3 linked regions of the Homo sapiens genome follow. The protein of the gene in region 1 interacts with the protein of each later gene in a biochemical or structural test. Each region holds a gene or a part of one and is shown in the gene's direction. Other genes may lie near its edges. The genes, in order: HIPK2, TLE1 and MECP2.

Region 1 (3,648 bases):
GTGGGAGATGTGAGTGAAAGCCTGGTTGGAACCAGGTCACTGGGGGTCTTAAATATCAGATCAAGGAATTGCAACTGTATCCTCAAACCCAGAGCAAGCCCTGGAAACCTTGAACAACATAAGGTAACGGGTTGAAAGGGATGTTCCGAGAAGGTTCCTTGTCTATCCACGTGCAGAAGGGCTGGAGGAAGGGAGAGACTAGTCTGGGGCCAGCTGGGTGGCTCCTGTGGTAAGGTGACTTCAGGCTTTGGGTCAGGATGAGGGAGGAATGATAGTGTCCGTGGCAGGGAAGTGTGTTCAGTCATGGACTCACACATGCAGTCATTCAACAAGCTTTGATTTCACTTTTAATATGTGCCAGCCGCAGTGCTAGGTATAGGGATATAGACAGGGCCCTTGCCATCCTGGGGTATCTGGAAGCTTTTCAGGGACCCCTGTATGCAGTCAGGATTGGAACCGCTGCCGACATGGAGCTGAGATCGGAGTGCTGGCTTTGGAGTCAGGAAAGGCCAGAGTGAACCTGGTCCCTCCTCTCCTAATGGCCTGATTTCTCCATGCCTTCATTTCCTAACCCATGAAGTGGGAGAAATCCTCTCACCAGCCTCGTGGGCAGCTGGGAGGTAACATGGCTGTAACATGGCTTAGGTGTGTCACTCCGTGGCTGGCCATGGCGGGTGCACAGCGGGGAGGCGGCAGGGATGGAAAGCAAGACCCTGCTCTGTGGAACCAGCCTGGGGGTGTGTTTGGGGTGGTGCCGAACAGTGCAGTGGAGATAGAGGTCACAAGAAACAAAACTGAAACTCCCATGAGAAGATGGGACGGATGCACATTTAAGAGCGTGCCACGTAGGCAGGAAGACCGGGGTCCCCGGAGGCCATCCTGCTTGCAAGCAAGCACGCTCGCTTGCCCGTGTGCTTTCTCCATGCGCCTTTCAAGGCCACAGAGAGAAGGCTGGAACATGCCCCAGGGCCTTGTCGACACAGCTGACCTGTCACCCATTCCTGGGGCTGACCTGGGCCAGCTTCCCCTTCTTGCTCCCTGTCCGGGCCCCCATCCTGGCTGCAGGCAGAGCTGTTGCAAGTCTCCTCCCAGCCCCTCCCTCAGCCTGCTGGGCACCAGGCCCTCCTTCCCTGGGAGAGCAACAGCCCCTCCGTTCGGATCCCCAGATGCCCTCCCACCTTCCACCCCGTCTCCTTTCATCCTAATCCTGACTCACACAGGAGGTTTCGAGGCCTCTTCACCCATGCTGTTTCTGTCTCTTCCCTCTTCCCTTTAGGAGGCATTTCCTGAGTTAGAACAGCTCTCTGCGAGCCTCTTCTCTGCCCTGCCCTGAGGATTCCTTTCCCGCTCATTTCCTATGCGCAGAAAGGTCTCCACAGGCCTGTGCTTTCACCACCAGGCCCCGTGCGGACAGACGGGTCTACTGCTGCCCCTCCACTTGCTCTCCACTCCCTCGTCCTGACCAGGCCATCCACTCTGTGCCCCGCTGGCCCCAGAGCCAATGGCAGGGAGAAGTAAGCCCAGGGCAGGAGCCTCCAAGGAAGACAAGAAGCCTCTCCTTGTCTCCAGAGGAGAAGGATGGGCAATGGTTGAGTGAATCTGGAGGGTTGGGTGCCCGGTACCGACAGCACATATTCTCTGTAGAGAGTGCCTGGGCCTCTGAAAGCCAGCTCTGGTGGCCGTCCCGGGTACCAGCCCCATTGGGGGCTAGCTGGTGCTGTGCTGGCTCTGGGAGGCTGCTGTGCCACTTCGTATTTAGGTTGGTAAATTCAGCATGCCAAAGGCTGGCTCTTTCTAGTTCTTGGCCTGAATTCAGGGTGAACAGCCCCTGACTTGGCTGCTAGGGCTTTTATGTAGTTCATCTGAATTGCTGCATCATGAACACGTACCAGTGTTATTAACATTCACTGAAAGCTAGCATGGCGACTTGTAAAAAGACTTCGACAAACTCTGTTTAAAAGGCAGCACATCCTTAGAGCGAAACTTGGTGAATCGAGTAAGCTGAATTGGGGATTCTTAAGACCCCCTTGTCATCTTGCCTTCTGGTGCCCATGTGACGCTTCCTGGAGCCCTCCCTGCCCATCCCCTTGGACTCTGCGAGTTTTTCTTTGCTTTCCTGCCTGGTGCTGGTGCCCCTAGTGCTGAGGAGACAGGTCGCAAAATCGGGGATCCTAGCTCAGGAAGCCTGCGGCAGCAGTAAAAGTTTGCCTGTGAGGGTTGGGGAGGGCTGACTCCTTCACCTGGACTCACAGCGATCCTCTCCTGCCCCCCTCTGTGGGTGAGATCAGGCCTTTTGGACGCCTCTGGTGGGTGTGGTAGGCTGGTTTGCTGGCGGTTCCTGGGCCCTCAGGAGCCCTCTTTTCCCCACTTCGTGACAGGCACAGTCACATCTGGCCCCTGTGTCCCCACATCCCTCTGAAGGACCCTCCGTTTAGTTGTGATAGTACCCTCTTTTCACCCCTGAAATCACCATTGCCTAAAATTCTGAGCAAGAAGGCCTCTTTCTCCTTTCTGTGGTCACCTTCAGGCCCTCATGTCAGCCTCCCTGTGCCCAGCCCTGGTTCCAAAAATACGGTCAGCAGGAAAGACAGCGGCTCTTCTGCCTGAAATGAGGCTTCATTTCTAAGTTGGTGCAATGTTCTGTTTCTCCCTCAGGCCTTGTCTGAGCCCTGCAGTGGTTTGCCACCATATAGATCGATCCGATTTTTCGAGGACAGTCTCTAGTGCTCTGTCTCTTTTCGTCCCAGCTGTGTGGGACAGCCAGCTCTAGGCCATGTTTATCAAGTTGATTTTCCTGGTGGCTTTGCCTCTTATAGGAAAGAAAGGGGGCAAGAAAAGCTCTTTAATTGTCCATCGTTAAGGCCCATGTCCCAGAAAGAAGACGCTTTCAGATGCTTTCAGCTGCATCTGCATCGTGAGGGAATGGCTGTGTGTTTGAGCCGCCTGGGCTGGAGGAGTCATTGCATGCTGTGCATCCAGCCTCCCAGCAGGTTGGCCTTTGTCCTGCAGGTGGTGGGTGGGGACTTTCTCCCCTCGGCCCCCTGTATCTGAGCTGGGCACATTATCGTCCCAGGACATCTGACTTTCAAAAGGTAGAGTACTTATGTGTCCCTCTGTCATTTTGCATGGGACTGGGCTAAGTGTCTCATCCCACCATTGTCCCCACCTAGTGACACAGAAACGGTGTGAGACAAGGATATGTTATCCTCGCCTTGGGGACTTGGAAAAGGAGGTGGTGTCCCCGGAGCCAACTGTTTTCCCCAGCTCTCAGGCATGTGCCTGGCCACAGTGGCTGTTGGTATTCTGTGAGGCAAGCCCACTGGTGTGTTTTTCAGGAAACAAAGGCTGCTTTTTAAGTTTTTTTCTCGAGTCTGAAGCAGGGGTATTCCCTTCCAATTCGAAGGTCAGTTATGTCATTAACTGTCAGCTGCCCAGGTTCTCAGGCTTTACTGTGCACAGGAATCTCCTGGAGAGGTTGCTGGGAACAGAGTCTCCCTGGGAGTACCCTGGGAGAAAGTCCACACCCACCACCACAGAGACTTGCCTCAGAGAACTGGAGGTGAGCCAGGCAGGGGGTCTTAGGACCAGTCTTTGAGAAACACTATTCTGAAGGACAGAGGGATTTTCTTAATGGTGTCACCTTTCAGG
Region 2 (3,648 bases), on another chromosome or scaffold:
TAGTAGAGACGGGGTTTCACCATGTTAGCCAGAATGGTCTCGATCTCCTGACCTTGTGATCCGCCCGCCTTGGCCTTCCAAAGTGCTGGGATTATAGGCGTGAGCCACCGCGCCCGGCCATGTTCCGATTTCTAAACCATAACCCCAGGATTTACAGAGCACATACCACTGGCCTTAAGCAGACTCCGAGCTGCCCTGCCCTGCCCTGCCCTGGTGTGGTGTCTGCCTGCACTCTGCTGTTGCAGATGGTGCCACGTACCCACTGCCTGCCTGGAAAATTGTAAGGATTCCAGAGAAGGTGTTTCCAAAAAGCAGAGTGGCGGTGTTTTGGAAACACAGACTTTTTTTAGAGTAGTTATTAGTGCATTTTTTAAAAAAACCAAATAACTTCAAAATGTCTTCATTCATGAAATTCTTATTTAAATATGGCCCAATATTCTATAGCAGTAGGAGTATCCTTTGTTGAAGTCATGTGCTTAAAGTTTCTTTAATCTTTGAAAGATAATCCATCGTTAAAAGCATGTAAGCAAACTTTAGCCATATCTGCATCTTTCAGGAGTTGATCATATGAGGGCCCCCCACCCACAGCCCCTTCATATGTGTCGGTTTTGATGGAAAGATGCCTGCTTTTATCAGGTTCTTTGGCCTTTGCATTGAGGGGCTTAAGTGTAACAGCAGCCACATGACAACTTGAGAAAGCAGCTCTGGTAAATTCTTAGCAAGAATCCTTCTGACTAATGAGGTAATGTGCTCAGCATAACGAAGACCGAAACATAGAGGATGGGCCTGCAGTTTCCAAGTGGTAAATAATGCAGGGTGATGAGGTAGATTTATAAACTAGCTTGGAAAAGTGGTTTCTTCTCAGGGAACTATGTGTACACCTGTACCTCATACCTAGATAGTTTCAGCTCTGTGATGCAGGACACCAGAAGCAGTTACCTAAGCTCCTGTGAATTTGTTTTGTTTACTATTTTGAAGGAGACAGTTGTACTTGGACCCCAATCTTGACTAGAGAACTCTTGCTCTGTTAGAGTGTCCATGAAACACCACTCTTAACTCAAAAAACCAAGACAGCCATTAGAGAACATGGTGCTATGATTGCTCGGTAATTCATTATAGCAATGAATTATGTTTATTCTACAGAACAGAGACAATTATATCCGTTCCTGTAAATTGCTACCCGATGGCTGCACTCTCATAGTGGGAGGGGAAGCCAGTACTTTGTCCATTTGGGACCTGGCGGCTCCAACCCCGCGCATCAAGGCGGAGCTGACGTCCTCGGCCCCCGCCTGCTACGCCCTGGCCATCAGCCCCGATTCCAAGGTCTGCTTCTCATGCTGCAGCGACGGCAACATCGCTGTGTGGGATCTGCACAACCAGACACTAGTGAGGTGAGCAAAGATGGTCGTCTAAGGAGGGGTTCGCTTCTTTAGCAGCTGGGCCTATCACCTCTGCTTCTCTCTGGCTGCCTGCAGCCCACACAATAAGAGCCTCTTGAATGCCAGGCATGGGGCTAGGTGATGAGGGAACAAAGACAACTGTGTTGCTGCCTTTGGGGGGCTTACAGTCTTATTACTATGCCTGGTGTCACCCGAGACTTTCTATCTCCTTAATGTGCCAATTCTTCAGCCCACATACAGACTCCAAACTTGTTCTAAAAATATTTCTGGCTTTTGCCAAGGGGTGGCCTAATGTGGATTACACGGCAGCACAAAAGGCCCTTGATACTAGATGTTTTGGGCTTTGGCTAGAACTTGGTGCAGACAAGAGCCAACTGATAAAAGATAACAGAAAATCAACAAAGGGACATGAGAAGAGGAGATTCTGTGAATTTTGCCTACAAAATGATTTTAAAGTATCTCAATAATGAAATAGACCTGCCCAGGGGTGGTTCCACCCAGGAGCCCGCAGGGCTCTGCCTGGCCTTCTGGCATCAGCCCTGTCACCTTAGCAGCAGCTGCAGTTCTGGTACCCATGTGTCTCTCCTCAGCTCCCCCGCCAAATGCTCCCTTCAGAAGTCAGTGCTCACACCAGAGCTGTTCTCAAAAAGTCTTTTTAAAGTAAGCATGAATGAAACATGAAAGGTAAAATGAGTACATGTTTTACTCTTGTTTCATCTTTGCTGGGAAGCCGTCCCTGCGGATGGTGCAGTTTGGGGTCTGTGGCTTGTTTGGTAAGTCCCCTCTCATGCTGCACAGAGAAGGGACGGGCTCCAGAAGTCATCATGACAGCTCACTCTCTTCAAACCTCCGCTGTAGAAATCCATGAAGTGTCATTGAGCCGGGCCCGGTCCCTGCGTGTGGGTGACAGTGCGGCAGTTACTTTCCTCTTCTGTTTGCTGGGTAGTGTAGGTGAGCAAAATGGAATGATGGAGCCAGGGCCGAACGCCCTCTCCACCTTTTATCCTAGCAAAAGTTACTTGTTTTTTTCTTTTTTTAAAACTCCATAAGTAGCACTTTCAAAATATCAATTCTAAGCACTTTTCAAATATTCCTCCACTTAGTTCTCATAACGTCTGTCCTGCTATTTGCCCCATTTTATAGAGGAAGTGCCTGAGGCTCAGAGAGGGTAAGTTACTGGCTTCAGGTCACACAGTCAGATGTGGTGGAGCCAAGTTGAGGCCCAGGCATTCTGCTCTCGTCTGTACTCTGAACCCTTGCTCCGTGCCGGCTCCTGGGGAGTAAATACCTGTTGGATAGAATGGGGTAGCGTCTTACAAATCTTTCTCTGGACCACTCACAGGTGGCTAGTGGCTGCTGCATGTAATAGGGCCATGTAAAGCCTATTGAATGTCTTTGTATCCACTGTAACCCAGCACGTTCTGAACAGTCATAGGATGTGCCTGAGAGTAATGCTGGAGTATAGTATATGGACGGAGAGAGGGCAGAGGGATGGGGGAGCAGCTGCCAGGTACTGTATGTCAGCAGAGGAAGGTGTTTTCAGTCAAGGAGGAACAGCGTTTCATGAGTTAGAAAGGTCAAAAGAAGTCAGAGGGTCACTGGATTTCCAGAGCTGTTTGAAGGGAAGGAAAGCAACACTTTCACCAAGTGAAGCAGGGACTGCTCCAGGCCTGGGTGTTCTGTGGGGATGTCTGGGAAGCAAGCGGAAACATTGGAGGTCCAGCTGCACGGCCGCAGGAGAGAGGACTCAACCTGGATCCTAAAGTGCAGAAGTTGGGGATGGCTTGCAGAGAGAAGATTTTAAAAGTGATGGTTCACGTCTTGGCTTAGAATTTAGGGCAGTAGTGGTGCTTTTTCCTTCCCTTGCACTCTTTAAAATCCAAGCTCAGGTTAAAAGTTTGGAGCTCTACAGGAATGATAAGGTGTGGGGATCCTGGAGGAAGAAGCAGCATGGTAACTTTCTTCTCAGTGTTGAAATTCCCACGCAGTTCTTTACTGGATCCCGCCTGCTTCTGAGGGTGGGTCTAGACTTTGCTCGCCTTTTCTGGCTGCCTCCCCCACCACCTTCCTCTCAGCATGCAGAACTGAGTCCACCAGTCACCGTCCCTGCTGGGGCTTACACTGACCTCCCCTCAGCAGCTCTGCTAGTTGCCTTGCACAGCATCTGTGCTCAGCAGATCCCTGTTGGCTGATCGTTTCTGATGGCGATTTTTGAATGAAGCACAAGGTTCTTTAAAGAACAACCTTG
Region 3 (3,648 bases), on another chromosome or scaffold:
AGCCTGGTTTCCATTGCTAATGTACCTGCTTGGGACTCTGCATGATAAATGACGTGTCCTGGAACCTGAAATCTTTTATAAAGGTTAATATCAGCAGAAATCTTTTAATTAGCTAAGAGCAGCTTGTTCTCAAGCTGCCCGAGTTATCTTGGAGGAGAGAATCACAGGAAATGTTTGATATTTCTAGTAACCAGTGTTTTCAGTGCGTGGGGTAAAGCACACTCCTAGACTGGCCAGTCCCAAAGAGTGTGGCAGGACACCTGCTTGTTTTCCCTGCCCTCTGCTATGGTGACATCCTTGCAGACCAGTCTTGCGTGGCTGGCAGACGCAATCTTTTTTTCTTGGGTAGAGCATTATCACCGCTGCGATGGAAGGACCTTGTCCTCGGTGCCTCCATACCAGCCCTTTCCAGTGAAACTACTGCTGTCCCGGCAAGCCCCTGTGCGTGTGCATCATTCCGGGTAGGACAAGATGTGAACAGGTCCCTCTTCTTTGGGCTTAAGTAGAAGTTGTGCTCTTCTGCTTTTACCTGTGTGCTCTTCTGCTTTTACCTGTTCTCTTCTGCCTTTCTCTTGCAAGAAACCTGTCGAAAGCTTGCTTTGCATGCCATTGCTTAAATACTTTGATGGTATGTATGGTATGTGGGATAACTGAGTGGGAGCCGGAATTGGGGGGTGGGCAGGGCATCCCCACCCCCACCCCCACATCAAAGGGGGAATGACCATTTCGTTAGAGAATAAAGCCTGAGTCTTATAACTTCTTCAAGCACATGTATGCTGGGTCTCCTGGCGTGTGAATGTGTTCCCGCTGTGCTGTGTGGCTGTTTTGCAGTTACTGTAGACACTGTAGTCTGGGCTCTCATTATTGCCTCTGAAGTTGACAGGACCAAGCCTTAGTAAGGATGCACTTGTCTTCCTAGCCCAAGAGCTAGGGGTGTTTTATATATATATTAACTTTCTTTTTTAGATTTCATAAACTGCTCTCATTTTCTCTTTTCTTTCTTTCTTTTTTTTTTTTTTTTTTTGAGACAGTCTCACTCTGTCACCCATGCTGGAGTGCAGTGGCACGATCTCAGCTCACTGCAACCTCTGCCTCCCGGGCTCAAGCAGTTCTCTGCCTCAGCCTCCCAAGTAGCTGGGATTACAGGCACCTGCCACCACGCCTGGCTAATTTTTGTATTTTTTTTTTTTTTTTTTTTTTTTTTTAGTCGAGACGGGGTTTCACCATCTTGGCCACGCTGGTCTTGAACTCCTGACCTCGTGATCCACCCGCTTCAGCCTCCCAAAGTGCAGGGATTACAGGCGTGAGCCACCGCACCCAGCCTCTGGCTCTTTTCTTTTTGACATGAAATCTTAAGTTAATTATCTTAAACTTTAAGAACTAGAAGGATTCTTAGTCCAGCACCATCAGTTTACAAACAAAAAAAACTTGTGTCCCTGAGAAGTTGTGACTTTTCCAGGGCCTCCTAGCCAGGATACCAGTTTGGTTTTTATTATATAGCTAGCCGAGTAATACTATTAACTTGACTTCTGGGATTTCAAAGTATTCTATGACTTGACTGTTTAAGGGAATTATGAGGCCTCACTGAACCTCAAAAGATAATTTTAGGTACCATCCTGGTAGCTGTAGAGCAGCAACAGACCAGTAAAAGACTTGGTTGGTGTTGCCCTTCTTCTGGGTTTGATTACATGAGTAATTGTGTGAATAGTCTCTAAGTTGTATGCTCTGAGCTTTCGTTTTTAGCTTATAAAAGTGCTACTCTTGGGCCAGCATAGTATCAGAAATTAGCTAATTCATATGGGGCAGTTTAGGCTTTAACTAGGAAATGATGGTTATCTTAATGACAAAAAAGGTACTGACAAAAGTCCTTTTTTGAACATGTGTTCAAAAGAAAAAGAGAAACTATCAAACTAATAACTGAGTTTGTTGAACATCGAGATTGACTGATCTGAGAGGCTTAAAACTGATTGCCCTGAAATAGACTTGCATGTTTTGGATGATGGCTTTGGGTCTCCCAGAGCACTTGGTTTCCCTTGGTGCTGATTTTTTCTCTCAGGATTAAAGCCCCTTTATGTGATGTTGTTACAGCAGCTTATTGCAACTTCATTCAGCTGCTTGAAAAAGAAGGGAGACTGCCTCTAGGTTCCATGTGTTCTTTCAGGGATGGTATTTTGATGTTGCGTATTCTCTTGAACATGTATTCTTCCCTGAGAATTTCTGTGTGCCGTGGTAGAAGAAATACTTGCCAGAAATCGCCACTCATGGTATGCTTTTGTAGTGTCGAAGTGTCCCCTAGAGGTGACAAGGCTTGTGATAGTGTTGATTCTAACAAGCATGAATCTTTCCTTTATTTTAGCACTGTGTGTTACGTGCCAGTAATTTGCAGCTTATCCTTTGTTTCTAGCTAGGTAAGCTGGGAAATAGCCTAGTACTTTGTCTATGTGTTTATCTTCAAAATGTCCCAAATAGCCCTGGGAAAAAGGTCGTGCAGCTCAATGGGGGCTTTCAACTTACAATTTTCTTTGTTTTAGGCTCCATAAAAATACAGACTCACCAGTTCCTGCTTTGATGTGACATGTGACTCCCCAGAATACACCTTGCTTCTGTAGACCAGCTCCAACAGGATTCCATGGTAGCTGGGATGTTAGGGCTCAGGTAAGTAACCTTCCTTTTTTTTTTTTTAGTATATGTCCTGGTTTGGCCATCTGTTTTTTTTTTTTTTAAAAAAAAAAAAAAAAGGAAAAGAGGAAAAAAATATACTACTCTTGGACAGTATAAAAGTACCCCAAAGACTAAAGACATAACTGTGCCAAACTGTGCCATATAATAAAAAAAAGTCACTTCCCTGAGCCCTGAAAGGTCAGTGTGTGTAGGGTTACTTGGTCGCCACAGCGTGATCTGGGGGCGGGCGTCAGATTAGAGCCGGAACTGGTGATCTGCAACTTCAGTTCACCTTGAAGCAGGTCAGCTGAGCTGAGAGCGCTTGCACTGAGCCCTTTTGCGCTGCTGCTGTTGCCTTAGCGGTCTTCAGCATGTGTTTGCTTTGGTTTGGGGTAAATGGCTTAGTGGTCAACATTAGTGAGCAGTGGTAATGCATTTTCAGATATGGGAACTGGTATGTGGTTGGTTCCCTAGAAGGACACCCTCCTGAAAGCTGTCTCAGAACACCGGGGGCCATGGCTAATGTCATGTGCTTGCTACACTCCTCCCATGGTAACTAAAGAGAGTACCCAGATATACATCTGGTTCTTGGGACTCTAGAGGAGGATGAGTACTTTGTAAAAACCTGGGGGCCCCAGTCATTCTAGGTCTGACACTCAGGTGCTGTATCAGCTGCAGTTTGAACTACTTGGCACCATTGTGTGGACTTTAGTTTTGTAAAAATGAATGGTTCCTTAATTTCTCAACCTTCAGGCTCAACATCTCAAGCTGTTTGTTGTTGTTGTTGTTGTTGTTGTTTTGTTTTGTCTTTTTGATTAGTGGTCACTCCGCATTTGATGTTTTGACATGTGGATTTCAGAACTTCTGTGTGGTAAAGCAGAATGTTCCAATTGAATTTTCCCATTTTTTTTCCCCTAAGCAAAAATGTGAGTTTTCACTTATGCGGCCATTGTGATTCCGACTGAGACCCTAAGTCGTTCTTTGTTG

What was found.
Region 2: the proteins of HIPK2 (region 1) and TLE1 form a complex in vitro, tested with the Homo sapiens proteins (one study listed by IntAct).
Region 3: of the proteins of HIPK2 (region 1) and MECP2, one has a biochemical effect on the other in vitro, tested with the Homo sapiens proteins (one study listed by BioGRID).

The regions. Positions count from the first base shown.
Region 1 is NC_000007.14:139,711,883-139,715,530, reverse strand, and holds part of HIPK2 (homeodomain-interacting protein kinase 2), read left to right. Parts: intron 1-3,648.
Region 2 is NC_000009.12:81,588,548-81,592,195, reverse strand, and holds part of TLE1 (transducin-like enhancer protein 1), read left to right. Parts: intron 1-1,143; coding exon 1,144-1,391; intron 1,392-2,085; exon of another isoform or gene 2,086-2,688; intron 2,689-3,648. UniProt on the Homo sapiens protein: Transcriptional corepressor that binds to a number of transcription factors. Inhibits NF-kappa-B-regulated gene expression. Inhibits the transcriptional activation mediated by FOXA2, and by CTNNB1 and TCF family members in Wnt signaling.
Region 3 is NC_000023.11:154,091,191-154,094,838, reverse strand, and holds part of MECP2 (methyl-CpG-binding protein 2), read left to right. Parts: exon of another isoform or gene 1-461; intron 462-1,289; exon of another isoform or gene 1,290-2,629; coding exon of another isoform or gene 2,630-2,655; intron 2,656-3,648. UniProt on the Homo sapiens protein: Chromosomal protein that binds to methylated DNA. It can bind specifically to a single methyl-CpG pair. It is not influenced by sequences flanking the methyl-CpGs.